Linked DNA regions of Homo sapiens. The protein of the gene in region 3 binds, or shares a complex with, the protein of the main gene of each other region. Each region holds a gene or a part of one and is shown on either strand. Other genes may lie near its edges.

Region 1 (7,021 bases), on a different chromosome or scaffold from region 3:
AAATACTTAGACTTTGATAGACCAAAACCTGCAAGTATGCTCAAGAGGATATAAATAACCAAGTTTACAATCCTTATTTTTTGGTTCCTGTTATCTCCCCCATCTACCTCTGAATTCAGCAAACTCTTGACACTCACTCATAACTGAGGTCCAGGAAGGAAGAGAAAAGTCACCATCCTATGGTATTTAGGGACAGAGCGGGTGTCAGCATCTCCACTTCCCAGGGCTCTGACCCATGATGTGGCCCAGGGCTCACGCTGCTGAATGCTAGGTAAGGAGCAGTCCTGACTAACAGCTGTTATTTTATTAGTTGAAAAACAAGAAGGCCCTGAAAATCCCCCCTCTTCCCGGTTACTTGGTTAAGGGTCCATGTTCTTTGTTCATTCATACTTGGAGTCTCACTCTGTTGCCCAGGCTGGAGTGCAGTGGTGTGATCTCGGCTCACTGCAACCTCCACCTCCTGGTTCAAGCGATTCTCAGGCTTCAGCCTCACGAGTAGCTGGGATTACAGATGCGTGCCACCACACCTGGCTACTTTTTTTGTATTTTTAGTAGAGATGGGGTTTTGCCATATTGGCTGGGCTGGGTTGGCCAGGCTGGTCTCGAACTCCTGACCTCAAGTGATCCGCCCACCTTGGCCGCCCAAAGTGCTGGGATTATAGGCGTGAGCTACTGCGCGCAGCCTGGTTCATTTATACTTGACATAAATCCAAAAGAAGGCCACCCCTGCACGATCTCCAAGAGCCTCTGTGGAAAGCTCTAGTTTAACCCTAGGAAGGAGAACAGCTCACCTCTGGCATGATCTCGATCTTCTCGTACCGACGTTTGAAGGGCAGGGCGAGAACCTCAGCCCGCCGATAGGACATGGCGGGGGGCTGGCAGTCGATCATGAGGTCCATCCTGTGGGACTGGGCTGGGGGCGGCTGAGTGTACTGCTCAGGACACACCACGTGCAGGGGCTGAGGAACCAATGGGACAGTTGAGAAAGGTGGTGTGAAGTACAGTGGCCCCTGTGGAAGGCCCATTCCTGACCCCGATCCACTCCCCGCCATTACAGGCTCACCACTTCCAGGCCAAGGTGAACTTTCATCCTCTCAAGCCCAATGAACCGTAGACAGGAGAGGGAACGTGAAGGCACTGGGGCAGAAGAAACATCTCGGAAACCCCTAAACTGCCTCAGCTTAATTTATCTTTCTTACTCTTTACATAAGTTTCACGGTAACTTCCATGTGTCTGCTCCCAGCGGTCTCTGGGCTTCCTCGGGGCACGGTCTTTCTCTAACATTCCCACATGCCTGCTATTATAAGCTCTTGGCTGATTACCAAGAGCTGTGGCTTTTCGTGCCGGGCTGGCGCTGTGGGTTTGGAGTTTCCGCTGGATCTGCAGGTCAGCTGGTATTAGGCAGTGGGCACTCCTCAGCTCATGTGCTCACCATGTGCAACCAAGGAGCAGAGGCAGAGTTTTTTTTTTTTGTTTTTTTTTTTAAACAAAATGTCTCTTTTTGTTATCTTGAGAAAAAAAGATTAGTAAACCAATTTTTACTTTGCACAAATATCACCCAAATGAAAAGGAATGCTGGCAGCCCACAGGGGCACTGTGTTGTCCCTGCTTCTACTTAAGAGCTTGGACCAAGCCCTGAATTCCCTGCTGAAGACGGCTTTCCACCAGGCTGACCGGGCTGAGCTTCCAAAAGCACTTGTTCCTTAGGGCTAATACTTTTCTCCTCCAAACTGCCCTTTGCTCCTCCTCTTGACCTGTCTCAAAGCATCTCATGCCACAGGTGCAGTCTGATGGCTTCTCCCAGGTTTTCCTCACCTAAAGTGGAGACCAGGTGGCCTCCAGTTTCCAGGATTAGCACCTGACAGAGGGGCGTCAAGAGCTGGTTTAGGGACTGGGATTTGAAGTTAATAATGAAAAGCAACACGCCTTTCACTGCTGCTTCTAACGTGGATGAGCATACATTGGGGTAGCGAATCACTGTAGACAGGCCCCACGTTTGCTGTCTGCTCTCATCATACCTAGAGAGTGCCAGTATTCTTTCTTCATTGGGCAAGCACATTAATAATCACCAGAATCCGCTCTTGGGGCCCTCCTGGGGTTCTCCGGCTTTCTCTGTTTCCTGTTCCCCTGCCTTAGAGTTTTGTGAAAGGGCCTCTCTCATCCTGAGGTTGAAGGTGCTGTGCTGGGCCCCTCCACCCTCATCTCACTCCTGGGAACACCAGGGAGTGGAAAGGGAGAGCTCTTCCTCGCCGGTGTCAGCTGTCCTCCTTGCCAATTCCAGTTCCTCTCCCGACTCTCAAGAGCCAGAAACCCAGCGAGCAGTGGCTGAGCCAGCACAGTGGTTCCGTGGCCCTGCCTTCCTGCTACGCGCGCCTCCTGGTCTACACTGCACCCCAGCTACTTCTTCCCTTTCTCCAGGGCAGAAAATGTGAAGTGAAACAAATGACCAAAAACTGCCACAAAACCCAAACCCGACAGCACTGTTTGTGGTACCAGCCTACACGTGCGACACGGCCCCAGTAACGCGTTTCATTTAAACTGTCTCAGCTTAGTGAGTATGTTTCTAGAATGACTTTTTTTTTTTTTGGCAGGGGTGAGAGGGTTTGCTTTTAAGCGGACACAGATGGTTTTCTTTCCCTTCCACATCTGATTTCTTTAGAATGGAAACTGCGGTCAGGGTGTAAAGACCACTCCTTTTCAGTGTGGAGGGGGGCTGGCATGTGTCCCAGCATTCTGCAGATGCGTGAGAACTGAAGACAAGAATCAAACACAGCTAGATCTCTCTCCCCTCACCCCACACAAGCATGAGCCACACCAAGGTGACATGACTACGTGAAGGCACAAGCAGTGTCCTTCATTACCTGCACTTCTTTAAGCAGCTTTGACACCTGGATGAAGTTCAGCCGGGTGTCGATGGGGCAGTAGATGCATTTCATGGCCAGCGGCTGGTAAGGAGCCAGGGCTTCCAGGTAGGAGAAGTCTGGTTCTAGGGAAAGTACAAGAAAGAAATCTTACAATGCAGACTACACAGGAGCTGCCAAGCCAGACAGCAACTGGGGCGCTGAGGGCCCACAGACAGTCAGGGGGTCAGGAGGGAGCCAGGAAGCACACGTGGGGGACGGAGGTCAAAGGGGCCCCGTGGAAGGAGGGGCAGGCTGGGATGGACCCTGTGGGTGGGCTCCAAGCTTCAGCAGAGGCAGATGAGGTAAATGAGGGAGAAATACATATGTGGGGGAGAAAAGAAAGCTCTTTTTACAACGAAATGCCAAGAAACAAACGATGAAATAAAAACCAAAACCACCGTTTGGCAACCATTACAGTTCATCACTTATTCAGATGAAAATCATCAACAAATGCTAAAAATATCAGATACCATTTTGAGGGAGAACAGAATATGTATATAGTTTCAAAGAGTCCCCCACAAGGTACTGATTTAATACAATGGGAAAAACTGACTTCACAGTGGAGAGGCCTGGTACAGACCCGGGAACCTAGAATCAGCTCTGAGTTAACGCCCAGGTGTGAGATGCACCCGGAAGACAAGCGCACGGCCCCGCCTCCAGGCCCGTGAATGGTCTGTAGACTGAGACTGGGATGCTCCCCAGCAGCCCCAGCCCCTCAGACCGGGAAGAGTCCTCGCCCTCTGCTCAGCCTGTCTCCTGAGGGCTGCTGCAGCCTGCTTGGCAGGGAACATTCCCCCAACTCGAGGGAGCTGCCTGCCTTGAGCCAAAAGACCTCGCTCGGTCCTAACTGATGTGACACTTTGATTCCCAGCACAGTCTGTGCCCAGCGACGAGGGACCCTGGCTTAGGCACACCAGACACAGAGACGTCTCCACTGTTGTCAGGACAAACTGGCAGAGCTGCCAGGTACATAAATGCCCATTCCAGTGGATTGTGCTTCTCTGAGAATACTGACCCCCTTTTCATGTATCCAGGAGTCACAAAACAATAAAAAAAGATGGCCCCAACCTCTCCCAGACACAACTTCTGCCCTGGAAGCCCCATAAACCAGTTTAAATGCAAACCCATTACCCAGAGTTGTCACAGGAAATCACACAGTCCTGATTTCCTTTTAGCTGAAGAAACATTTGTACTAAAGGCCAGGTTATCTACTGTGCTGTGTAGATGCTGTCACCACTGTCATGTCAAATGTCGAGTCACCACTCAGCAGCAGGAGCAGGAGACACCAACCTCAGCCCCACTACATAGGACATTCTCTGGACAACCTCCTAATTAATGAAATCTTGGCAGCTATGAAGTTCTGGGTGTTGTCAATCAATATCTTGTGGCCCAACTTCCTCCACCTTTAGCCCAAAGCAGGCCTGAGAAGAGGAAAGCAGTCCTGGTGACCGGGGCCTCTCCTGGCACTTTCTGCCTGGCCTGGTATCAGCAAGAGCCGGCCTGGCACCCACAGCAAAGCCATGTGTCCTCCTGCTGTGTGAACGCAACTTCCTGGAACACCAACACCTTGTCTGACAATGATGGATCCGGCCAAAGACAAGACCCCTCTGTAATCATCCTGAACACGGAACACAGAACTTTCCTGACCACAGCATAAGCAAACTTCCCGCTATGCCGGCTCCATTCTTCCTGTGTTCTAGATAAGAATGAGTTAAGAAACCCATCGCAGAATGACCCTGCATCCTGACGCCACCCAATACAGGGTGACGCCTCACCTCCGCGAACACCTGCGCATCACCGAACACCAGCCGGAGTCCTGCAAGGTCTTTTTGCTTTTCTTTTACCCATGGTGTGTGTTCCCCTTGCTGAAATGAGGCAATAAACCCAACTTGGTTTGACCACAGGCGTGTTCCTGGTGGCCTCTAGGTCACAAATGAAAGCTGGGGGAAGGGCTGAAGCGTCACCCCAGTGCTTCTGGTGTAACTGGATTCCCAGCTCCTAAAGCTAGGAAGGGAGCTGGTGACAGTGCTTTCCCAACAGCCGCCATGTGCCGGGTTCTGTGCCTGGTGCCCAGAGTGACCCACAGAGGTAGCTACTGACAGTCCCATTTACTGTGGGGACAGTCATGCTTGCTGGTGAATTGGCTGAGGTTGCTGCAAGCTGGGCCAGATTTCAAATCAAGGTTTTTTTTTTTTTTTCTTTTTTCTTCATAGCCTGTAAGATTTCTAAAACCCAAGGCCGACTGAAGACCCTAACCCATGGGTGTCCAAGCTTTTGGCTTCTTTGGGCCACACTGGAAGAAGAACTATCTCGTGCCCCACATAAAATACACTAACACTAATGATGACTGATGAGCTAAAAAAAAAAAAAAAAAAAAAAAAAAAAAAAAAAAAAAAGGTCTGTGCATAATTTCCAAGATATCCCCTATCACAGATAAGCAAAAAAGACCTAGCATTCAAAGGGCTGGGCACGCTACACTGATAAAATGATACAGTCATTATCTATGTAAACACTCTACTTGACCTTATCAAAGGAATTTTTTCCCCTGAGGGATTTGTCTCCAGAAGAAAATCCACAGTTAGAGTAAACCACAATCAGAAGAAAAAGATCTACCTCTGTAAACAATTCCTAACAGGTAAAACAACACCGTTACTGAATCACTGCACTTCTTGAAATGGCTTACGATATCCTAGCAAAAGCACTCAGCAGGATTCTGTCTTGGAGAAATCTGAAAACACAGGCATGAAGGCCTCGCTGGATGCCCAGCTGTCCAATGGCACACACTGCTTCACTCTTTCTCTGCGGTTTCTTCATTCTTTGGTACCTACAGTAGAACAATGTTTGTATTTATGTCTCACTGCAAAATCCTTCCCTGGGTCTCTACCTTGTAGGTGCATTCACTCATGGCCTCAGTGGAGAGAACCAATTTGTTTCTTTATTTTTTTCACTTACCCGTGAATATGACGGTATTGAGACTAGATTTTCCCCAGAGCTCCATGAAGTGGACCACGTCCCCGAAGCGGAGGGAAGGGTGCCCGGTGAACACCACACAGGGCTGTCTAAAGTCGTTGCTGAAGTCTCCGTGGATGCTGGGGTAGTGCTTCAGCTTATTGGTCTGAATGAGCTGGAAAATATAGAAAAAATACAAAGAAATGTGAGCCTGCCCAGGCTGAAGGGGGAACCAAAGTACGGGAGGGTGAGCGGGACTGGATCTAAAATACCAACAAAGAAGACAAGCCACGGATTGGGAGAAAATACCTGCAAAAGTCACACCTGAGAGAGGACTGTGACCCAGAATCTATGAACTCCGAAACCTCAGCAAAAAGAAATGAACAGCCCTATTAAAAAGTGGGCAAAAAACCTGAACAGACACCTCATCAGAGAAGAGAGATGGCAAATGAGCATACGAAAAAATGCTCCACACCGTATGTCATTAGGAAACTGCAAATTAAAATGATGAGATACCACTATACACCTGTTATAATAAAATGGCCAAAATCCAGAACACTCACAGCACCAAATGCTGACAAGGATATGGAAGAACAAGGACTCTCATTCACTGCTGGTGGGAATGCAAAAGGATACAGCCACTTTGAAAGATATTTTGAAAAATCATGTCCACAAGAAACCTGCACATGAATGTCCTAATTGCTAAAACGTGGAAACAACCAAGATGTGTCCTTCAGCAGGTGAAGGATGAAACTGATGCATCCAGACAATGGAATATTATTCAGCCCTAAAAAAGAAATGAGCTGCCAAGCTACGAAAAGACATGAAGGAACCTATTCCTAAGTGAAGGGCGCCACTCTGAAAAGCCAAGGCCCCTATGATTCCAACTGTATGACGTTCTGGAAAAGGCAAAACTATACAGATAGTAAAAGGCTCAGCGGTCACCAGGGATTCGTGGAGAGTGAAATGAACAGGCTGAGCACAGAGGATCTGCAGAGTGAGGAAGCTCCTCTGTGTGATGATGTAATGGTGGATCCAGGTCACTGTTCATTTGTTCAAAACCATAGAAAGCACAACGCCAAGGGAACCCCTACTGTAAACTCTGGGCTTTGGGCGAGAGTGACGTGTCAATGTGGGTTCATCAGCCGTAGCAAACGCACCTCTCTGGT
Region 2 (7,821 bases), on a different chromosome or scaffold from region 3:
CTCTTTCTTACCTTAGCACTTCAGTAGAAAGTGTGCCACCCCCACCTCCATCTTAAGTCACCTCTCAAGTTTCAGTTTTTCCTGCACATTCCCTCAACAAAACTAGAAGTTTCACTGTTACATAGCCCAAAAACATTCTGTACTTATTTGTAATATTAATCACACTGTTAATTATGTAAATAATCTTTCTTTCTCATTAGAATGTAAGTTCCATGAAGGCAGGCAGTGGATTGGTCTTGCCTACTGTTGTAACCCCTGTCTGGCAGAGTTCCTGGAAAACAGCAAATAACTGTAAATGTTGGCCAAGTAAATACTTGTTATCTACTTCCAATTTCATAAAACTTTCTCTTCCCTTGAGTTCTGTTATACTCAACTTTTCTGTTTTTCCTCTTCTATCTCTGACTACTCTTTCTTTGGCTTATCTTCTTTGTTGCTTTTGGTATTGTCCAAGTATTTGTCCTTGGCTATCTTCTTAGTTCTGCTAGCAGTTTCTTCTTGGTAATCTTATACACATCAGGTTTTCAACTATCATCTCTGGGTAGATGATTTAATATGTTTTACCCCAACTTCAATCTCTTTTTTTTTTTTTTTTTTTTTGAGACATGGTCTTGCTCTGTCACCCAGGTTGGAGTGCACTGAGATCATGGCTCACTGCAGCCTCGAACTCCTGGGCTCAAGTGATCCTCCTGCCTCAGCCTCCCAAGCAGCTAGGACTACAGGCATGCACCACCGTAACCATGCCCAGGTAATTTTGTTGTTTTTTAAGTAGAGCCAGGGTCTTGCTATGTTGCTCTTATCTGGTCTCAAACAATCCTCCTGTTGTGGCTTCCCAAAGTGCTGGGATTACAAGTGCGAGCCAAATCTCTTAAATTTGAATCCCATGTTTCCAAATGCTTAGTGTATGTGTCTATGTGATTCCTTAATGGCATCTCAAATTCAGTTACAACTAAAATTGAGATTCTGATTATCTTCCCGAAAAGTTCCTTGTCCTGCTCTTACTTTCAATAAATGACACAACTTTCTTTTAGTCAGGTTTGAGACCAAAGTCTTTCCTTCACTGAGTCTTTCCCTACTCCTTATATTCAAATAATCAGAATTCCTGTGGATTCTGACGGCAATATTTTTCACACTTGTCCTACTTTTCACTTCCACTGCTACTACTGAAATTCAGGTTTTATTAGCTTACTTGAACTATGGCAATAACCTCGTTATTTTCCTTGACTTCAACATTGTTGCCATATGAATTTTCCTGAAACCCAGTTTTCTTCTTTTTCATTAAAATAAAAAAAAAAATTCTTGCTGAGAAGTTAGGGCTTTCTACCACCTTCGAAATAAAGACCAAATTTCTTGGCCTAGCATTTAAGAAGATTCAGTAACTGGCACAAAAATTATCATTCATCATCCCCAGATCTGCCTTATAGCTAGCTGACCCTGCCACTCTTATTTTTTTTGTCCAGGAAGCTCTTTACCTATTTTTATATATCTACATCCTATCAAGACCCTATTCAAATACTTCTCATGAAGATTTGACTGACAGCTGCTGTGCCCCTCTCCATTCCAAACCCTATTAATAGTCTCTCCATTCAAGGATATCTCATAGTGCTTTTTCATGGTATTGCAACTTTCTCCCTTGAAGCATTTTTTTTTTTTTTTGGCACAAGTGTTATGTCCCCTACAAAACTCTGAGTACTTTAAGGGCAGAGTCTATATTTATCTTTTTGCCTATCTCTTTGCCACTTTGCAAAGTACAACAAAATAATGGCTATAGAATTACTGGAATTAAGTGATCAAAGTATAGTGGTCTTATCTCTCCTTCTACACAATTGTAGCCATTTCCAAGGTCCCTTCAGCAAAAATCACAAAAGTAACTCACCCCTGCCCCCACAAAAAAAACTCCAAACATCAAAAAAGCAAAAGCAAAGCAATCACCTCTTTCACGACTGGGGACTTGTAGTACAATGTTCCTATCTGTAAAATTCTCACAATCTTTCGCCTGTCTTGCTTAATTCATTAATCCCACTGGTCTGTAAACTTGATGACAGCAGGAACTTGTTTTGTTCACTGTTATTTCCCTAGTGCTTGAAACTTAATAAGGGCTCAAAAATATTTATCGAATGAACGAACTAGGTTTTTTGCGTAAATGTCACCTTATAAGGCTTCTGTGATCTCTCCAGTCTAAATTGGGCATTCATATATAAATATAAGTATGTGCTTTCTCCTAGATCCATTTTTCACCCTACCTGGCAATCTCAAAAGAAGTCCAAAGTTGATCATATGCACGTGCCCCAGATGAAGGAAACAGAAACTGTTCACATAGAGTGCAGTATTATCGTTGCCATTTCATAATGGCTCTAAAAAACTTTGTTCTTCATGACTTCGCAAGCTCTTGCAACCCCTTCCAATAAACATTATTTTAAAGATGCTGCCTTTTTCATTCCTCCACTGAGTTCTTGGTTCTGGATAACACTGATACCTTAGGGACACCTGGAATCGCAGGAGAAAAGGCTCCGATTCCAAACCAATCAAGTGGCTGAAAGCTGACAGCAAACACTTAGAAAAGGAATGTCAATCCTTTGATCAAAGCATCACACATCGAAGTCCTAGAATGGGGGATGGTCCTTGACAGGGGAGCCAAAAGATGAGAGACAATGAGGGAGCTACGTAGAGAAGTCACTAAAACCCTCCGACAAAGTCCGAGGCAGGATTCCAAGTCCCTTGTCCCTAGACCTAGAAATATGCTCGGTCCGCATGTCCCGGCCCGCAACTCCCTCGGAGGAAGCACAGTCCTCACTGAAAGGGGAGAGCAGTCAGTCTAGGGCACGCAACCGCCCGTAAATTATGATTCCCCTTGAGGAGCGAGGAAACTAATACCCCACGTAGCTACTCTCCCACCTCGCTCCTGGCGCGGGGGTCTCGAGCCTCCAGGAGGCCAGGAGCAGAGTCGCTCAGCATAACTCACCGTTCCGCCCCGCCCTGCCGATCCGTCTGTTCCCGGTGGTCCCTTCGGAAACGGTTCCCGCACTGGCCGGCTCCGAAAGCAGGAAAACAAAGGTTCCCACAGTAGGGGCGGGGGAAACGTTTGGCAGTGCGACAGTAGGAAGTGACGTTACTTCCCTTTTTCCGGTCCGCCGGATTATGAATGACGGCCGGCGCGAGTATTTTCCACATAAGGTGGCTGTCGTTTTTCTCCTGGCGTCTGTGGAGGCGAGTGGTCTGCGGGCAGCAGCTCCCAGAGGCAGCCTTGGAATTCCAGCTCGGACTGGGCGGGAAGGCGCAGGCGGCCCAGGTCGCCGACACGCTCACGCACCCTCCCTGCCTGGCCGCGCCTCTGCGACCAGGTAAAGAGGGCGCTCGGGCCGCCGGCTTCTCAGCCTCCGCGACCCCCTAAGAACTGGTCTTTTCTTCGGGGGTCTGCAGGGCTGAGGATGCGGGGGAAGGGTGGGAAGGACAAGGGCGTGGTATCATCGTCCTGATTTTTCTCCCGCCCTGGGGCCGCCTCAAACTCCTTTTTGGCCACTCCTGCTGAAGGTGCGGGTTGAGGGCTCTGGGCTTCTCGGTAGTACGCGTTTCCCAGTTTCCCCCTAGCCAGTCCCTCATGTCTTCCTCTGCTGATGGAGAAATGGGGCAGCTTCCAGTTGGAGGCGTTGGTTGGGGTGGTTTGATATTTGCTGTTAAGTGTTACTTCAAGACCTCTTGGGTCACACTAACTTCTCTTCTCTCTTTGGCATTGAGTTTTCCATTCCAGCCCTTCCTGATTGCAGAAAGCAGTTCTATGTGAATACTACTTAACATTTACTCCAAAGGACTTGCTTCATTTGGGGCCATTTGCTTATGTTTTGTCATCACAGCAGTATCTCTTGGGTTTTTAACTTCTATAGAAAGTTTAATTTGCATGAAAGTTGCTTTGGTTTCAAAAACGTTTGCTAATACACGTACTTCCCATCCCAACTTTCTACCTGGTTTTGGGATGAGATGACTTGTTTTTTTCCCCTTTATTCTTAATGCCAGGATCCCATTCCTTGTCATAAATTCTTGAATATCAAGAAAATGCCAGCTTTAGTAATATATTGTGTGCTACATTATTGATAAAGAAGGTGGTGTATTTCTATTTTACCTAAGCTTATCTGTAAAAACAATGTTTACAGGAGAAAATGCAAAAGCTAGCAAGAACTAGTGATGTGATAATTTTAAACATGTAAACATAGTCATTTAAATCCATGATAATAAACTGTTATAACACAACTAAGTGATTCGCTGTCATATTTAATAAACATTAAGCTATGCGGGTTTTTTTTTCTTTTTTTTTAACTGCCTGATGGGGAGCATACACCACTGAGAGGATTGCTTTAAGCACACTCATTACTAAAAATTGTGTTTGTATTACACCTGAAAGTATCGTTTTGTGAGGTCTCACTTCAAAAATAAGACTGAAAAGGTCAATGAGATTTGAGAATCATCATTTCTTTTTATTTTATATACTTTGCACTTCTACGTGTTTTTGCTTTAATTTAAACACAGCTCAAACTTGAGCTTCTGTAGTAGTGGGCCCATCAATTTTTTTTTTTTTTTTTTTTTTTGAGCTGGAGTCCTGCTCTGTCGCCTGGGGATGGATTGCAATGGCAACATCCGCCTCCCGGGCTCAAGCAATTCTCCTGCCTCAGCCTCCCGAGTAGTTGGGATTACAGGCGCCCACAATCACACTCGGCTCCTTTTTTTTTTTTTTTTTTTTCAGTCGAGGAGGGGTTTCACCATGTTGGCCAGGCTGGTCTCAAACTCCTGACCTCAAATGATCCGCCCGCCTCGGCTTCCCAAAGTGGTGGGATTACAGGCGTGAGCCACCGCGCCCGGCCTGTTTTTGTTTTTTTAAACTTGTTTTACTTGTAGCTTTTGTTTCATCATCTGTGATTTTTAAATAAAAATAAATACTGAGTATCCAATTAGCTTTTCTAACAAAGAATAAATACTTGGAATGCAGATATTGAAACCATTTAGATTAAAACAAGCACAGGTATTGTTTGCTGTGAAAATTCAGTAATTTTATTTCATACTTGGTAACATGTTAGCCATTTGCGCTGTCGATCACTGTTAATTATGAGGTCGGGTTTAGCTGAAGGCATTATGACTCCATGGCAACAGATGATTCCCTGATTCTCCAGAGAGATTACACACTTCGTTTGTGGCTAAGGTTACTGTAAGCTTTTCACTTAAAAACTTTTCCTACTTCTTTACCAGATAAGAAAACAGCTAATTTTAATCACTGGCTTTTGTTCTCTAGGACTTAACTGCATCCCATATTACGTATTTAATGAGCTTGAAAAAATCTCAGTGTTTTTCTTATCGTTTTTGACCCTAAATATTTAAGGTAATTGGCTGCTATCTATCTGTTGAGGGGCATGTTTTTTTGTTTTGTTTTGTTTTGGTTAAATCTATATTATTGTAATAAAATAGGGTACAATTTTCAGCCAAATACTGTTGTTTTATGAAAAGCATAAAACACAAGATAAGTTATAAAATTCAAAATGTTGAACATATGATGTAGGAGAGAATTTAGGCAGGTTTAAATTTTAATCTTTAAGAAAAGTAAGTGTTTGTGATTTTTCATACTTATAAACTGTGTTGAACTTCTTATTTTGTACAATAGGTTGATATGCACATGGATTAAGGGTTTCACGTTTATATTTTACCATTTCATGATTCCCTGGCTTTCAGCCTCAGTAACAAATATGTTTTTTTTCAGTATTTGGTTGGGAAAAACTTTTCAATCAATATAAATCCTTTACCTTTCATGGAAAGAAGCTTGAAAATATAAACCATAATTTGGGTTTTGCCCATCAAGGTTTGCATATTTTAATAGTGCCAGTTGATAAGGAATTTGGTTATAAATTATAAAGAAATAATAGTAGCTAGTATTTATTTAAGGACTTAATATGTGACAAGCTTTTTTCTGTATGGCACACTACATGGTAGGTACAGTTATTATTGTCTCCATTTTATTATATAAGTGAGGAAACAGATATGCAGAAAAGTTTTTTATAGCTACTAAGAATCAGAACCAGTATATTTGCACCCAGGTGGTCTGGCTCAACAGTCTCGGCTCTAATCTATTACTTTATAATTCTTGTTTTATAAATATTCTTGCTAGGCACATGTATGGAATCTAGTTAAGATTCTTAGTTCCTTTGCCCTGGATATAAGTATACATAAAAACTTCTGTGCTTGCTTTATTTATGAGTTTGGTTAGATTCCATTTATACTTTTCCCGATTCACCTCACAAAGGTGATCTTATTTCTTCATTTTAATTTATACTTAGTTGGTCCTTAAAATAGAGTTATTAATTTGGAAAAGAAAGAATGGTGTCATGAAGAATGAGATACACATTGTACCAAGACTAAAGTTATTAATAATACTCTCAGACAGTGATTTCTGACATTCATATATGTACATTCATTCCTTGAACTAAAGTTTCAGTTCATTAAGCACTGGAGATGTTATAGTGTTAGGTGATAAGAGCTATGAAGAAAAAGGGAAGCTAGGTAAGAGGCTAGGGTGTGCTTTTTCAATTCAGGCAGTCAGGAGAGGCTGTTCTGAGTTAATATTTATGCAGAAAAATCAATGAAATGAGGGAGCAAGCCCTGTGAATCTCTTGGAGAAAAGCATTCTAGGCAAAGCAATAGCAAGTACAAATATTCTCAAGTGGCACCTTCCAAAAACAGCAAGGACAGCTATGGCTGGAAGGGAGTGAAGAAGGATAAGAGATGAGGTCAGAAAGGGATAGCTAGGGTCACAGTAGGCCTATAGGCCATAATAGGAAATTTGGATTTTATTTTGAGTGTGCTGAAGAGCCATTGGATGGTTTTGAGCACGAGACATCTGATTTATGTTTTTAAGGATCACCCTGTTGTTGGAGAATGGACTGTTTTATGGAAAGTGGAGGAAAATAGTTAATAGGCTTTTGCAGTAGTCCTTGTAAGCACTGGCGATGACTTAGATTAAGGTGGTAGTGGTAGAGGTGCTGAGGAGTTGGATTTAGCATATACTTCAAAGGTAGAGATGGCAGGGTATGAGAGAGAGAAAAAAAGAAGTTGAGTGGGACTTTTGAGTTTTTGGCCTAAGCATCTGGGTAATTGGTGTTGCCATTTTACCAGGAAGTAGAACACGAAGGGAAGGGGAGCAGGTTTAGAAAAACATCCACATGGAGATGTCAAGTAGAATATAGTAGTCTGGAGTTAGAGGAGAAGATACGGCTGGGATATACATGTAAGAGTCAGATCATATTTAAAGCTATGGCACTGGAGATCACCCAGAACAGTGCTGTCATATTGTGAGTTGTGCCCCATTAATGAGTCAGGAAATCAATGTAATGAGTAACAACCAGCATTTAAAAAAACAAGCACAGAGTAAAAAATATCAGATTTATCCCATATTGTAGGATAAGTATTGCTTCATGACATTTTTGTTTCTATTTTATTCAGTGTATTGTGTGTTACATTATAAAATATATACCTAATTGTGTGGCATGCTCAAAAGTTTGAAAGCCAGTATTCGAAGGATGGAGTGTGGATTGAGCAGAGAGCAAAACACTGAGCTGTGGGTCACTGAGACATCTGCAGAGTAGCCAATGAAAGGAATCAGGAAAGAATTGCCAAAGAATTTAATCCAGTGCAGAAACTTGTCAAATAACCCAGCCTTTGGAATGGAAGTTTATATCAAGGATTACTGAAACCAGCATACTTGCTTAGAATAACATAATATCTGACAATTTTCACTTTGGTAAAATTGCTTCAATTTATGAAATTTTATTTATAAATAGTACTGTTATA
Region 3 (7,974 bases):
TCACTAAGCACAAGACGCAATCGACGAGGTGAATCACTGTGTTCAAACTCTAACGTCAGTCCATGCTGAAGCTGTGATACCAGGATGCTCTCTCCACTGCCTCCTCCAAGTTTATGCCTAATGAAGTACAAAACATGTAACAATTATGAAAACACTGATATGGAAATAATTGCATAAAAATTATCTTTTATTGAAATAAGCTATAAAAGGATGTATAAAGTGTTCTAAAATGTTCTGTTACTTCTGAAATGCTATTTAGTTTGCCTGTGTATTTCAGGGATTCACATCCTACGTATAATAAATACTCCACCACATAGGCCAGGCACAGTGGCTCACGCCGGTAATCCCAGTACTTTGGGAGGCTGAGGCAGGTGGATCACAAGGTTGGGAGTTCGAGACCAGCCTGGCCAATATGGTGAAACCTCGTCTCTACTAATAATACAAAAAAGCCGGGCATGGTGGCGCGTGCCTGTAGTCCCATCTACTCGGGAGACTGAGGCAGAAGAATCACTTGAACCCAGGAGGTGGAGGTTGCAGTGAGCCGAGATCACGCCACCGCACTCCAGCCTGGGCAACAGGGCAAGACTCGGTCTAAAAAAAAATAAAAATAAAAATAAATAAATAAATACTCTACCACAACTGACAATTAACACTCACTTCCACTGATGGTGGCTTGCTACTAGATTCACAATGGGCAGGGAAGGACATAGCACCTGCCCAGAATCTTTGGGAATATCTAAGCTTTAAAAGCCTCCCAAGAGGCTGGGCCCAGTGGCTCACACTTGTAATCCCAGCACTTTGGGAGGCCAAGGCAGGTGGATCACCTGAGGCCAGGAGTTGGAGACCAGCCTGGCCAACATGATGAAACCCCATCTCTACTAAAAATACAAAAAATTAGCCGGGCATGGTGGCAGGTGCCTGTAATCCCAGCTACTCGGGAGGCTGAGGCAGGAGGATCGCTTGAACCTGGGAGGCTGAGGTTGCAGTGAGCCAAGATCACGCCATTGCACTCCAGCCTGGGCAACAAGAGCGAAACTCTGTCTCAAAAAAGAAAAAAAAAAGCCTCCCAAGTGATTCCAATAAATCCCTCTAATCTAGGGGAAGTTACCCTACCTACTTCCCACTGAAAGTAATTGGCCTAATGAGTTTAGCCCACATACAACAGCACATTGCCATATTTCTCTAGATAACATTTTATAACATGGAAGTCAAAAGATTCTGGAACTGTAACTATATACAGAAAAGACCTAAGTAAAATGCTCTCCAGAATTTAGATTCTCATTCTCTCTTTTCTGGAGAGCTCTAAAAAATATCTGATTCCCTGTTCTTTGTCAAATCCAAATCCACATATAATATAACATAACATTACCTAAGCTGCTGTTCTTTGCTGGCATCTTGTTCTAAAGCATGAAAGTCCACGGACAACAATGCAACAATGGAGTTGACAGCTTCCACTCCAGAAAGAAGGCGAAGGATGAGTTTCTTATCCTGAGCCCAGCTTTGGCTCTGGTCAGCAGGTGCACAAAGTGCCATCCGTACCAAACAGGGCAGAAGAAGTCTTAATTCTGGATCACTTAAAGATGCCAGGCAAACAACATCCACCTTCTGCATTGCCTCAAAAGCAAAAGGGCTGACAAACTGAAGACTTGTACATTCAGTCATTATTACTGTTTGTTGATCCTAATGGTAAAAATACAAATGAAAGTAGGAGTTTAACTTTCACATGTATGAACACCCAACTTTCTAAAAACCCTGAAAAATGTGGTGTATCTTTAATAGGTCCCTATGTTGGCAATGTTCCTGGCACAATCAAGACAAGGCTTCTCTGTCTCCCTAGGTTTATACTGTCACCTGGGAAATGGGAAAGAAAACAGAGTATATTAATGTCTCTTCCAGCCTCAGGAATCTTCTGCTCTAATACTCATATTTTACAAAGAAGGAATATGAAGCCCAGAGAGATGAAGTAACACGCCCAAAATAGTATTACTAGTTAGAGGCACAATCCAAGGCTGAATCCTCATCTACTAAAATCCCAGTCCAAGACTTTCTCCACTATATCAGTCACATGAGCTCCACAAAATGTAAACAAAAGTGAATGGTCATAGTTAAGTGCTTTCTTTCATACCCCGATAGTTTCACATGCCTACCCCGATATACATCAAGAACTATTGGGCTTCTCTTTCTCACCCTCCATGAGTCGGTGGAAAAACTAGCAAATCACTGGGCAGAACCAATGCCAGATTCAAGGCTCTGGAGGCCACAACACTATCCTATGTCCCCTGTGTTACCGGGTAAAAAGCAGATGTGTGGGTGCTATGTGAGAAAGACGCGTCTCATTAGCGCACTTCTCTGTCTCCAGGAATCATCCAAGGCACAAAAAGTAAACAAAAAGGCAGTGAGCTGGCAGCCAAAGCAGTCCCCTCTCAAGGCCGACCGACTAGCAGCAGCGTGGGTAAAAGTCGTGGGTAAAAACTGCTTTGCTTTCAGGGAGGGGCTGCTCTTTTAACAGAGGGGCGGGCTGACTGGAGCAGAGGAGCCAAGACCTGCGTGCTCCTCCGTCTCGCCCCGGGCGCAACTAGAACCAATAAGTCCCTCAGGCTGAGCAAAGTCTGGCCAGGCTCCGACACGGACCTAGGAACGCGCTGAGGCCAGAGAAGCGGACGCTTCATACCTTAAGATCTACCCTCCAGCCTCACGGAACCGCACACGGACTCCGCGTCCTAGAGGCGGGACGCGGCAGAAATCGAGAGCGCGGTCCGATGTTGGGCCTAGGCGATATCCGGAACCCCAAACCCTAGTTGTGCCTCGAGTCGACTCGGACACCAAGAACTCAGACGCCGGGACCAACCGGGTTGTCGATACAAAGTGGGAAGGATGGGGGCACCACACAAAGGCAGAACCGGGACTGTAGGAACGGAAAAGCGGGAGACTTTTTCAACCTGCACCCAGCACCTTCATTCATCCCCAGCGTCTGACTCCCGTCGGCCACCGTACTGGTCTGAGAGGAAGGGTGGCTGCGAGAGGAAAGGCAGAGACGTCGGCGCCAATGCAACTGTGCGCGTGCGCGGCCCCGCCCCTTTCTCCACTTTATTTGCCCTGCCCTACTTGTTCGCCAAAAATTTAGAAATGTGATTCTGGTAGGCTCTGATTTCCAGAGCCTACCAGCTCCTTCCTTTTAGACAAGCAAGCCACTGAGCCCCTCAGAACTTAAATTTCATCATCACAGGATTGCCATGGCATTCAAATGGCATAACGTGTGTTAAAATCGTTCCCACTATTCTTTGACACTAGTGGTACCAAACTGTACTCTTTAAATCTTTGCCTGTGCCTTCCCAGAACCAAAATTCTAGAATCCCAGGATTTGTGGGAGAATTTTAAAAGTGATCTAACCCCAAACTTTCTTCCGCTCTTGACCTCACACCTCCGCTGTCAGAAGTTAAACACCTTCCTTTCAGGTTCTTAACTTGGGGGACCCATAGAACCTTAGAGAGGCAATGCACGGGGATTCAGGAATTCTCTGGAATCCGTTCAGAACTGAGTGCTCGGCACTTCTTCTGGGAAGAGGGTCCAAAACTTTCAACAACTTCTCAAAGGAAGTCTGATCACTCAGAAAAGAACCACTAGTCTATATATGAAGAACCGCTAGTCCATATGTCTTCATACTATTTATTGTTCCTAGTTCGATCAACGTTTATTTGGCAACTTCTATTTACCAGATATTGTGCTAGGAGCTGGAAATAAAAATATTTTACAAAGATATAGCACTTTATAACCTCTTTAAAAATAAAGTCAGAGCCGGGCGTGGTGTCTCATGCCTGTAATCCCAGCGCTTTGGGAAGCCGAGGCGGGCGGATCACCTGAGGTCAGGAGTTCGAGACCAGCCTGACGCAACATGACTAAACCCCAACTCTACAAAAAATATAAAAATTAGGCCGAGCACGATGGCTCATGCCTGTAATCCTAGCACTTTGGGAGGCCGAGGCAGGCAGATCACGAGGCCAGGAGTTCGAGACCAGCCTGACCAACATGGTGAAACTCCGCCTCTACTAAAAATGCAAAAATTAGCCAGGCGTGGTGGTGTGCGCCTGTAATCTCAGCTACTTGGGAGGCTGAGGCGGGAGCATTGCTTGAACCTGGGAGGCGGAGGTTGTGGTGAGCTGAGATCGTGCCATTGCACTCCAGCCTAGGCAATAAGAGCGAAACTCCGTCTCAAAAAAAAAAAAAAAAAAAAAAAATTACCCCAGCGTGGTGATGGAGCACCTGTAGTCCCAGCTACTTCGGAGGCTGAGACAGGAAAATCACTTGAACCTAGGAGGCAGATGTTTCAGTGAGCAGAGATCATGCCACCGCACTCCAGCCTGGGCAACAGAGCCAGACTCCATCTCAAAAATATATATATATATATGACTTTCAACATAGATCAGCAAAGGAAGAAAAGAATTGTGTGTTGCAATGCTTCTGAAAATTTTTTCCACCTGACCCACAATAATACATTTCACATTGTGACCCAGAAAAAACATATGTATATATCCACATACAAAAATAAGTGTAAGTGTATAAATTTATATGCTATATAAACATATAAATATATAACATATAAACCCACATTTACATGGAAACAAATATTTCGTATAATAACACACACACTACATGTTTCTACTTCTCTTTAAAAAACTGCTGGTCACTGCACACTAAAACTGATTTCACACTCTATTAATGGGTTGCACACTGTACTGTCCTAGCATTTTTAAGCTAATATTTGGGATTTATTTATTGAACACTTGCTAGGCACTGTAATAAATGCTTTATATATATTATCTGATTCAATCTTGTGACGTAGGTAATATTCGCCTTTTGCAATTGTGGAAACTGAGAGAGGGTAAGCAATTTCATCTCCATGGATGGTCATTTCACAGGAAAAGTGTGAAGGCAGTGCAAACATTGGTTTGAGGGACGAATGAGAGGAAGATGTGGGTATGAACTAAGTGATTTTAAAGATCCTTTCCAACTCTAATTATGATCCTCTGTTCACTAATGGAGAAACATCATGCAGATTCAGTATCTCCATCTTGATCTATGGAGAAACAGAAAAATCACTGAATGAGATGGCTGCAGTGTCACATAATGAGTGCTGACACTTCCTCCAAGTCCCCCTCTCCTTTTCTTCCAGTTCACCAACTTGACCTTGAGTTGCTCAAGCCAGAAACCTAAAAGTCATCCTAGACTCTAATCTCTCCCCCTTGTATTAATTTAGCAAAAATCTTTATAATCATTGAAACATTGTAATGTTTGCCAATAAAACTTTTTTTTTTTTGAGACAGAGTCTCGTTCTGTTGCCCAAGCTGGAGTGCAGTGGCACGATCTCGGCTCACTACAACCTCTGCCTCCCAAGCTGAAGCAATCCTCCCACCTCAGCCTCCTGAGTAGCTGGGACAATAGGTGTGCACCACCACACTTGGCTAATTTTTTTTTTTTTTTTTTTGAGACAGAGTCTCGCTGTGTCACCCAGGCTGGAGTGCAGTGGTGCGATCTTGGCTCACTGCAACCTCCGCCTCCCAGGGTCAAGCGATTCTCCTGCCTCAGCCTCCTGAGTAGGTGGGATTACAGGTGCCTGCCACCATGCCTGGCTAATTTTTTGTATTTTTAGTAGAGACAGGGTTTCACCATGTTGGCCAGGCTGGTCTCAAACTCCTGACCTCAGCTGATCCACCCACCTTGGCCTCCCAAAATGCTGGGATTTCAGGCATGAGTCCCTGTACCCAGCCTCTCTTTTTTTTTCCTTTTCGACACAAGTTCTCAAGAAAAGAGCGGCAGTGCAGTTGGGCGATCTTGGCTCACTACAACCTCAACCTCCTGGGCTCAGGTGATCCTCCCACTTCAGCCTCCCAAGTAACTGAGACTATGGTCATGCATCACCACACCTGGCTAATTTTTCTATTTTTTTGTAGAGACAGGGTTTCATTATGTGGCCAGGCTGGTCTTGAACTCCTGGACTCAAGCCATCTGTCCCCCCTCAGTCCACCAAAGTGCTAGGATTACAGGTGCAAGCCACTGCACCTGGCTTGACCAGCTTGCTTTTATTCTTCTACTTTATTTTTCAATCAGACTGGAGGAAGAGAGAAACACAAGTAATGAAAAAATGAGAAAAACAGAAAAACACATTAGAATATCTATTATGTTTCATGTATACTAGGTGCTTAATGTAGGTTGCAGAGTAATTGAGCTTCCAGCAGTTAGAAGACCTAACTATACAAAGGTGAGGACCAATGTCCTTCAGAAATAGTCATAGAATTCCAGAAGCACAAGGATCTCAGAAGACATCTAGCTCCATTTTGCTCAACATGATGCTCTTTATAGTGTGACTATTTTATCTTGTAAGATGTCTTTCAGGAGGGCACGATGGCTCATGCCTGTAATCCCAGCACTTTGGGAGGCCGAGGCGGGTGGATCACGAGGTCAGGAGTTCTAGACCAGCCTGGCCAATATGATGAAACCCTGTCTCTACTAAAAATACAAAAATTAGTTGGGTGTGGTGGTGTGCACCTGTAGTCCCAGCTGCTTGGGAGGCTGAGGCAGGAGAATCGCTTGAACCCGAGAGGTGGAGGTTGCATTGAGCCGAGATTGCGCCACTGCACTCTAGCCTGGGCAACAGAGTGAGACTCCATCTCAAAAAATATATATATTCTTTCATGTTTCAGCCTGTAAAGATCTTTGACTCTTTTACACTGGCTATCTGTTTTAGCTTAGCAGATCATATCTTCATTAATATTATGGATAAAACATTGAATAGAATTGGGTCCAGCCAAGACTTCTAGTTCAGCATTAGAGACATCCCTCCAGGTTGACATAGCTCCACCAATCAAGGCTCAAGTATGAGACTGTTTTATAAATCAGCCCAACTACTAAAACACTACCCTGCTTTGGGATAAAGTTGAATTTCTTTAGGATGGAACTAAAAAGACAGATTGATTGATTATATTTTTTTGAGACAGAGTCTCGCTCTGTCACCCTGGATGGAGTGCAGTGGCTCAATCTTGGCTCACTGCAACCTCCGCCTCCCAGGTTCAAGCAATTCTCCTGCCTCAACCTCCCAAGTAGCTGGGATTACAGGCACCTGCCACCATGCCCAACTAAATTTTTGTGTATTTTTAGGAGAGACGGGGTTTCACCATGTTGGCCGGGCTTGTGTCAGTCTCCTGACCTCAAGTGATCTGCACGGCTTGGCCTCCCAAAGTGCTGAGATTACAGGCGTGAGCCACTGTGCCAAGCCCTAAGACAGATTTTTTTTTTTTGAGGTGGAGTCTCAGTCTGTCGCCCAGGTTGGAGTGCAGTGGCACAATCTCAGCTCATTGCAACCTCTGCCTCTTGGGTTCAAGCGATTCTCCTGCCTCAGCCTCCTGCGTAACTGGGATTACAGGCACCCACCACCATGCCTGGCTAAATTTTTTGGGGTATTTTCAGTAGAGATGGGTTTTCACCATGTTGACCAGGCTGGTCTCAAACTCTTGACCTCAGGTGATTTGCCCACCTCAGCCTCCCAAAGTGCTGAGATTACAGGCTTGAGCCACTGCGCCCAACCCAAAAACAGATTTTTATGGTCTGACTTAAAACTCTAGCTTGGAGTCCTGCCGTATCCCACCATGGTGTCATTTTAGTCAGTTGGAACTGTTTATGTCTCAAATCCTTCTCAATATTCTTGGACCTTCTCATCACAGTTCCTCCTGTCTAGAATGCTTTTCATTCTCTTTTTTAATGCAAACTCCTAAGTGTCCTTTAAGTCTCACCTCCAGTGTTCCCTTGCTAAGAGACCTTTCCCTGACAAACCACCTACCCTTTAACTTATCAGGTATCCCTATTCTATGCTCTCAAGGCACCTTTTGCTTCTTTCAGCTATACTACTTAACACATTATATTGTAATTGTTAGAACTTCTCTGTCTCTCCCACTAAAAAGTATTTTGAGAGGGCCGGGCACG
Region 4 (7,021 bases), on a different chromosome or scaffold from region 3:
TGATCCAAGATAGTGCCACTACACTCCAGCCTGGGCAACAGAGCGAGACTCCATCTCAAAAAATAATAATAATAATAATAATAATAATAATAATAATAATAATAATAATAAACAAATAAATACATAAGTAAGTAAGGCTGCAGGCTCAATAAACTGAGAACAGTCAATGAAGACTGACACACACAAAAATGATAATTGAATAGTTCAAATCCTAGAATGATTAAATACAGTTTGGAATAAACAAATCACTCTGGGAGTACAAACCAACTCTTTCAGTTGCATTGCAAATTATGCTTTTTTTTGAGACAGGGTCTCACTTCTGTCGCCCAGGCTGGAGTGCAGTGGCGTGAGCACTGCTCACCACAGTGTCAACTTCCTGGGCTCAGGTGATCCTCCCAGTTCACCCTCCTGAGTAGCCGGGACTACAAAAGCATGCCACCACACCCAGCTAATTTTTTATATTTTTAGTAGAGATGGTTCACCATGTTGCCCAGGCTGATCTCAAACTCCTGAGATCAAGCAATCCACCCGCCTCAGCCTCCCAAAGTGCTAGGATTACAGGGCTGAGTCACTGCAACCAGGTGCAAATTTTCAATGTATTGAATAAAAGTGTGTAACCCACCAAAGGTTCAGCCAGGCGTGTAATCCCAGCACACTGAGATACTGAGGCGGGCAGATTACCTGAAGCCAGGGGTTCAAGACCAGCCTACCCAACATGGCAAAACCTCATCTCTACTAAAAGTACAAAAAATGAGCTGGGTGTGGTGGTGCGCGACTGTAATTCCAGCTACTTGGGAGGCTCAGGCATGAGAATTGCTTCAACCCAGGAGTTGGAGGTTGTAGTAAGCCGAGATCACATCACTGCACTGCAGCCTGGGCCACAGAGCAAGACCCTGCCTTAAAAAAAAAAGTACGTAACCCACCAAAGGTTCAAAGATTTATGAAATTATCAAAAACTAGCTTCCACCGAATATTTCATATCCTTAAGTTTATTATCTTCTGTAACTGAACTTCTTTTTTTTTTTTTTTTTTTTTGAGAGAAAGTGTCTTGCTCTGTGACCCAGGCTGGAGTGCAGTGGTGTGATCTCAGCTCACCACAATCTCCACTTCCCAGGTTCAAGCGATTCTCCTGCCTCAGCCTCCCTAGTAGCTGGGATTACAGGCGTGTGCCACCATGTCCGGCTAATTTTTGTATTTTTAGTAGAGACGAGGTTTCACCATGTTGACCAAGCTGGTCTTGAACTCCTGACCTGAGGTGATCCGCCCACCTCGGCCTCCGAAAGTGCTGGGATTACAGGCACCACCGTGTCCAGACTGAACTTCTATAAATACAGTAAATCTCAGAATAAATCAATATAAAACTTACTTATCAATCCAGTCCTAAAAGAAGACACAATTTCCAGTTAGCCCTTTTCTTTGTATGTGTCTAAGTCCTAAAACACTACAAATGGAGCCTACTCCTACAGGTTTATTAATTCATTCTGGTTTTCAAATTCTGGCAGTTTAATGAACAGGAAAAAACACCCCTTTTTCCTATACAAGGAAAAATAAAATATTCTATAAATATTTATAAATAAAAGATAAATAAACATTTATAAATATAATATTCTATCTTACAAAATATAATAAATAATATTGCCTACCTCCTCAAAGAATCACTGTGGTTAATTTAATTGCTGTGAAAATATTTTTAACCAGGAAAACTACATAAGAGATCATTATTCTCAAACTCATCTGGTATCTTTATCTGGCATTTGGCACAAGCCAAACTAAAATGGGTCCCAAACAATTTTAAAGATTTTTTTGTAAAGTACTGAAAACCATTTAAGAAAGATATTCCAATTTCTTCACTTATGGATGAGAAGGTTAGGATAAAAGAAGTGAAGTATCTTTCCAAAGTGTACAGAAAGTTCCTATCAGAGATGAAAAATGAGGACCAGGCAATCTGATTTTCAGGGCCTGTGCTTTTCCCTTATTCCCCATTGCCTTCCAAAAATGTAACCAACATTTCTTTTCTAGAAGTGGGCTTTTTGCATGGTGAGAGGAGAGGAAAACGGCTTCACAATCAACAAAAGCCAGCTTACACCCACACTGACCTTTCAGGATAGAGCTGACTGACGACCCAGATAAGCTGGACTGCAGCACTGCGCACTTGTTCATAGTCATCAGAGAGTAATTTACAGGCCTGCAAAGAAGAATTCCAAAAGTCTATTAGTTCTGTGTCCTCTCAGGCAATGTTTAAACTATTTTCAAAGTGAAGATAGGGTGGTTGGATAAGGATGCCCAGTAAAACACTTGTGTGTGGTTTTAACTTCTGGAATCTTTGCTTAAAAATGAATCTTGACCTCTGTCAGCTGCTCTGGCTGTATTCTGACTATGCACCCTACCCCATGTCTGAAAGGAGAATCACAGACTGACAGCATAAAAACATCTAGAACAGATCAAACCCAGCAAAGCATGCTGGGAGCAAACAGTACTGTTCTCACAGGTTCAAACACCAATTATGGCTTTTTCCTCCCCCTGTAAAAATCAAAGCACACACTTCTGTTTACCTTGGTCTGAAATCACTGGCCTCTGTTTCAATCCACTCACTCTTTCTGGGTAGCCCCATACTCCCTAAATACTGATGGCTTTGAATACCTACCCTTAGCTCTGATTTCTCCTGATCTCCAGGCCTTTATAACTACTTATGGCTGGAATTCTCTTCATGGATGTCCCATCAAACTTTTATACTCAACACACGCAAACCTGAACTCATTAAGGAAGCAAATTCTACCTTATATCTTAAATTCTACACTATCAGTCCATCCTCACTCCCTTGATGCTGTCATTACTGCTTGCCTAGATTACTAACAGAGTCTTACGCCACCAAACATCTGAATCAGCCAACTAACTTCCCTTCCTCTGAGTCCTTACGATCCAAGTTTCCTTTGAATTATTTGGCTTCCCACATAGTTTTCTTATAGAAAAAGAAGGCGATGGTCACACCACCACAAGCATTCTGGACCCATTCTACTTCATTCAATAGAGGAATAAACTTGGTTTACACATCTGTGATGGGGCTTGGCTAATTATCTTCTTCCCATGAGAGATAAAACCACTCTTGGCAGGCTAACAAAACCTAATCTCTGAACGTGGATTTAGATTCCTTTTACCAGATTCAGTCAATTATCCTCCAAGAGAAATACAGCCTCATAAGGCCTTTTGGTTGGCCATCAATCAGCTTTTCCACAACTTCATTATACCTTTCTTTACCACTACTACTACATGCATGTGACTTTTTTTTTATATGATCCTACGGTCTTGGTCACCCTTCTCCAGACACACTCTAGTTTGTGAAGTGTGGTGCCCAGAAATGAGTTCATGTACGGCCCAACCAAACAGTGATCAGAAAGACTAACACGTTCCTTATTCTAAATGCTACACTTTTCTTCAGGTACTCTCATTCTCATACTGAACTTTGTAAATCCTCCTAAAAGTCCTTTTCACATGTACTAGCGCTATTTAATTACATAACCTCCATTCTCTTCCTGAAAAGTATGTTTTGAATATGACTTCACATCCATCCCAATCAACGCTGCCACTATTAACTAGCGAAGTCCTTACGTTTTCAAATTCTGAGAACCTGTGTGCCGCCCTCCCAGCTTCATGATACCTCCAACCCCTTCCAGACAGTAATCATATAAGGTACCTGATTATAAATTGTTTGGTGTAATTTCAGTCCTCTTTCATGGAGCTGCAACTAGATAATAAATATATAGTTTAAGTGCTTGGGAGGAAAAGAGCAATATTTCCAATGTCTCCCCACAATCTCACATATTTTCCCCTATTGTATCAGGCTAACATGGTTCCTTTTAGCCAAAATTAGTGCTATATAAATAAGAAACCTTGTCGTCTTTCAATAGGAGCATTCAAGCATTTCACAAATCTAACCCATGGACTGTCCCAAGAAGGTATTAGAAAAATATGAAATAATGATATGAAGCCTAAAGAAAAAATGATTAACACCACCTCCCCCTATTATAATATCATACCAAGTCATATGCCTCCAAGTCGAAGGAATTATAACAGGTTCCTATTGTGCTTTCCATGTTTCATAAATACACATGAAAGCTACCAGAGAAAGCCAAAAAAGCACACTTGTATACAGGAATGTGTGTCACTGAGTTCTGCGAGGCCACCACCAATACCCTCCTGAAAGTATATGCTGAAGAATTTACAATGTATCCAAGGCAGCACTAGCTATAAACTTAAAAAACAAAAATGAACACTAGCCCCAACTAGTTTCCATAATCACATTTACCATGGCTTTTATAGCTGCTGTTCTGACACGTGGGTCTTGGTCACTGAAGTAATCCCCTATAATCTTCTGGACATCTCTGGCAGCTAGGCCTTCTGCATCTTTTGTGACACTTTTCTCCAAAGAGCCAAGATTGCCAAGTAACTGCAGGCACTTATTTCTTACACCATGAGACGTATCTGTCAGATGCTATTAAAAAAAAAAAAAAAAAGAAAAAAAGAAAAAGAAAAAAAGGACATGATTAAGATATCTTAACAAACACAGACAAGACCAGAAACAAAAGCATTGCAGCAACCTTAGGGGTGATTTCAAGACCTATATTCTTAGGACAGTCTGTCTAGCATCATGTTACTTGAGTACGGGTCTTCTCAAAAAAAATGAGTCCTTAGAAAATAAAAGTCCTAGTTTTTCATCTTTGTATTCCCAATAGCTTTGGGAATACAAAGGCACTTTGCCTTGTACAGAGTAGGTACTTTAAAATTCGTCCCTGATTGCGTTTTATTTGCTTTCAAATTTTAAAACCAGACAAAAATGTATAAATTTTTAAAACTTTTAATATCCATAGAAATATGCAAAATCTTAAGTGTACAGCTCAATAAATTTTCACAAATACACATATATAACAAGCACCCAGATTAAATAGTATATAACCAACACTCCAGAAATATCCCTCATTCCTCCTCCCAGCAACAACCTCACCACATCACCACCAAAAATAGCTACTATCCTGACTTCTAACACACAGGTTCATTTGTTTATTTTTGTACTTTATGAAATCAAATAGCATCTGGCTTCTGTGGCTTATTATGTTTGTAAGATTTATGCAAGGTATGGCAGATAGCAATGGTTCATTTATTCTTGTTACTTATATAGTATTCATTTGTAAATACATGAAAATCTATTTAGCCTTTCCGTTGATGAATATTTAAGTTATTTCCAGTCTTTGGCTATTTCGAATAATGCTACTGTGATTATTCTTGTATGTGGCTTTTGGTGTACATGTTCACATTTTTGTTGGATATATATGTAGAAGTAGAATTGATAGGTAACAAGACATGCTTCAGCTTAAGAAGATACTGCCAGTTGGGCACAGTAGCTCATGCCTATAATCCCAGCACTTTGGGAGGCCAAGGCAGGAGGATCACTTGAGCCCAGGAGTTCAAGACTGTCCTGGGCAAATGGGACTATAGGCATGTGGTGGCACACACCTATAGTCCCAGCTACCCAGAAGGCTGAGGTAGGAGGATCCTTTGAGCCTCGGAGGTGGAGGCTGCAGTGAGCCATGATCATGCCACTGCACTCCAACCTGGATGACAGAGTGAGATACTGCCTCCAAAAAAGAAGATATTGCCAAATAGTTTTCCATAATGGCTGTACTAATTTACACTTCCACCAGTGCTGCATAAGTGTTCTAGATGTGCCACATCCTTGTTGACATTTAGTACTATCAATATTTTTTATTTTAGCACCTCTCACCACGAATTTTAATAAATTATCAGTTTTCCTCCTGCATTACCCTAGTCCAATGCTACTAAAACAAGCTATTTGCATAACATAGCAACATAAATTAAAAATACTTTGAAGAAATGAGGTAATAAAAATGGTACAAAACTCTGGATTTCAAACTTCTTTTGACTAGCACCCAAAGTAAGAAACACATAATATTGCAAGACAGTACATAAAAACAGACATACAGCAAGTTTAACAAAACAATATTTACCTTATAGCTTGTGATTTACTCTGGTACTTGTATTTTATTTTTTTTCAAAAAAAAAAATTACGTCTCATGAAATTGGTCACATTACCCACTAATGGATAATGATTCTCAAAGTGAGTCACTAGTGCGGAGAAAAGTGAATGGGACTTGGCCAGCTTGGACAACACAGCGAGGCCCCATTTCTTTAAAAAAAAAATTTATAGCCAGGTGTGGTGGCACACACCTGTAATCCCAGCTACTCGGGAGGCTGAGGCCAGAGAATTGCTTGAACCCAGGAAGCGGAGGTTTCAGTGAGCCAAGATCACGCCACTGCACTCCAGCCTGAGCAACAGAGCAAGACTGTCTCAAACCGCGCCCCCTAAAATTCAAAAACAAAACAAATGAACTATTTATATTTAGTATAAAAACATCATTTCTCATGACTAAACTGTTGATTGCACCTCTGTTACAAACACTTTGATTTTCAAGCAATAAACTAAATACTTCTAGCTTCTGTCAACCAGGCAACAATAATGCACAATCAATGTATTACTGCACACTGAATCTTAGCCCAAAAGAGAGTCTCATGCTCTCAGGGAAACAATTACAATTTTATGATGTCCTTCCCTTACAAGTCACTTCTTGCATCAAGGTCATCATCATTAAGAACTGCTTTTCTGGCCGGGCGCAGAACGAGACTCCGTCTCAAAAAAAAAAAAAAAAAAAAAACAAAAAAAACTGCTTTTCTTTATACTGTTGGATAAAAACTTATTAATTAAAAAAAATTGCTAAGTGTCTGCAGATGCTATTTGGGTGTTACACATTTTGTCAGGCCATTGAAGTGCCATAATTTTTATATTAATGGAGCAAGTAAGGAAACCACATCCCCAATAATAAGACCAATTTGTGTCAAAAATAAAAATTAATTTACAATTTTGCTATATATTAAAAAAATAAATGGTTCTGTGTATCAACAAAATCTGAGAATGAAGTTGAATAAGATAAAAATAACATACTGATCCATT

What was found.
Region 1: INTS2 (region 3) and INTS9 share a complex: the UniProt entries of both Homo sapiens proteins name them as parts of the integrator complex.
Region 2: INTS2 (region 3) and INTS12 share a complex: the UniProt entries of both Homo sapiens proteins name them as parts of the integrator complex.
Region 4: INTS2 (region 3) and INTS4 share a complex: the UniProt entries of both Homo sapiens proteins name them as parts of the integrator complex.

Annotation. Positions count from the first base shown.
Region 1 is NC_000008.11:28,774,968-28,781,988, forward strand, and holds part of INTS9 (integrator complex subunit 9), read right to left. Parts: intron 6,028-7,021; coding exon 5,856-6,027; intron 2,987-5,855; coding exon 2,862-2,986; intron 960-2,861; coding exon 792-959; intron 1-791. UniProt on the Homo sapiens protein: Component of the integrator complex, a multiprotein complex that terminates RNA polymerase II (Pol II) transcription in the promoter-proximal region of genes.
Region 2 is NC_000004.12:105,705,679-105,713,499, forward strand, and holds the start of INTS12 (integrator complex subunit 12), read right to left. Parts: upstream 3,012-7,821; 5' UTR 2,960-3,011; exon of another isoform or gene 2,223-2,959; intron 746-2,222; exon of another isoform or gene 704-745; intron 297-703; exon of another isoform or gene 201-296; intron 1-200. UniProt on the Homo sapiens protein: Component of the integrator complex, a multiprotein complex that terminates RNA polymerase II (Pol II) transcription in the promoter-proximal region of genes.
Region 3 is NC_000017.11:61,924,983-61,932,956, forward strand, and holds the start of INTS2 (integrator complex subunit 2), read right to left. Parts: upstream 3,001-7,974; 5' UTR 2,959-3,000; coding exon of another isoform or gene 2,953-2,958; 5' UTR 2,672-2,952; intron 1,681-2,671; coding exon of another isoform or gene 1,663-1,680; coding exon 1,370-1,662; intron 118-1,369; coding exon 1-117. UniProt on the Homo sapiens protein: Component of the integrator complex, a multiprotein complex that terminates RNA polymerase II (Pol II) transcription in the promoter-proximal region of genes.
Region 4 is NC_000011.10:77,956,650-77,963,670, forward strand, and holds part of INTS4 (integrator complex subunit 4), read right to left. Parts: intron 4,490-7,021; coding exon 4,304-4,489; intron 3,743-4,303; coding exon 3,692-3,742; intron 2,186-3,691; coding exon 2,097-2,185; intron 1-2,096. UniProt on the Homo sapiens protein: Component of the integrator complex, a multiprotein complex that terminates RNA polymerase II (Pol II) transcription in the promoter-proximal region of genes.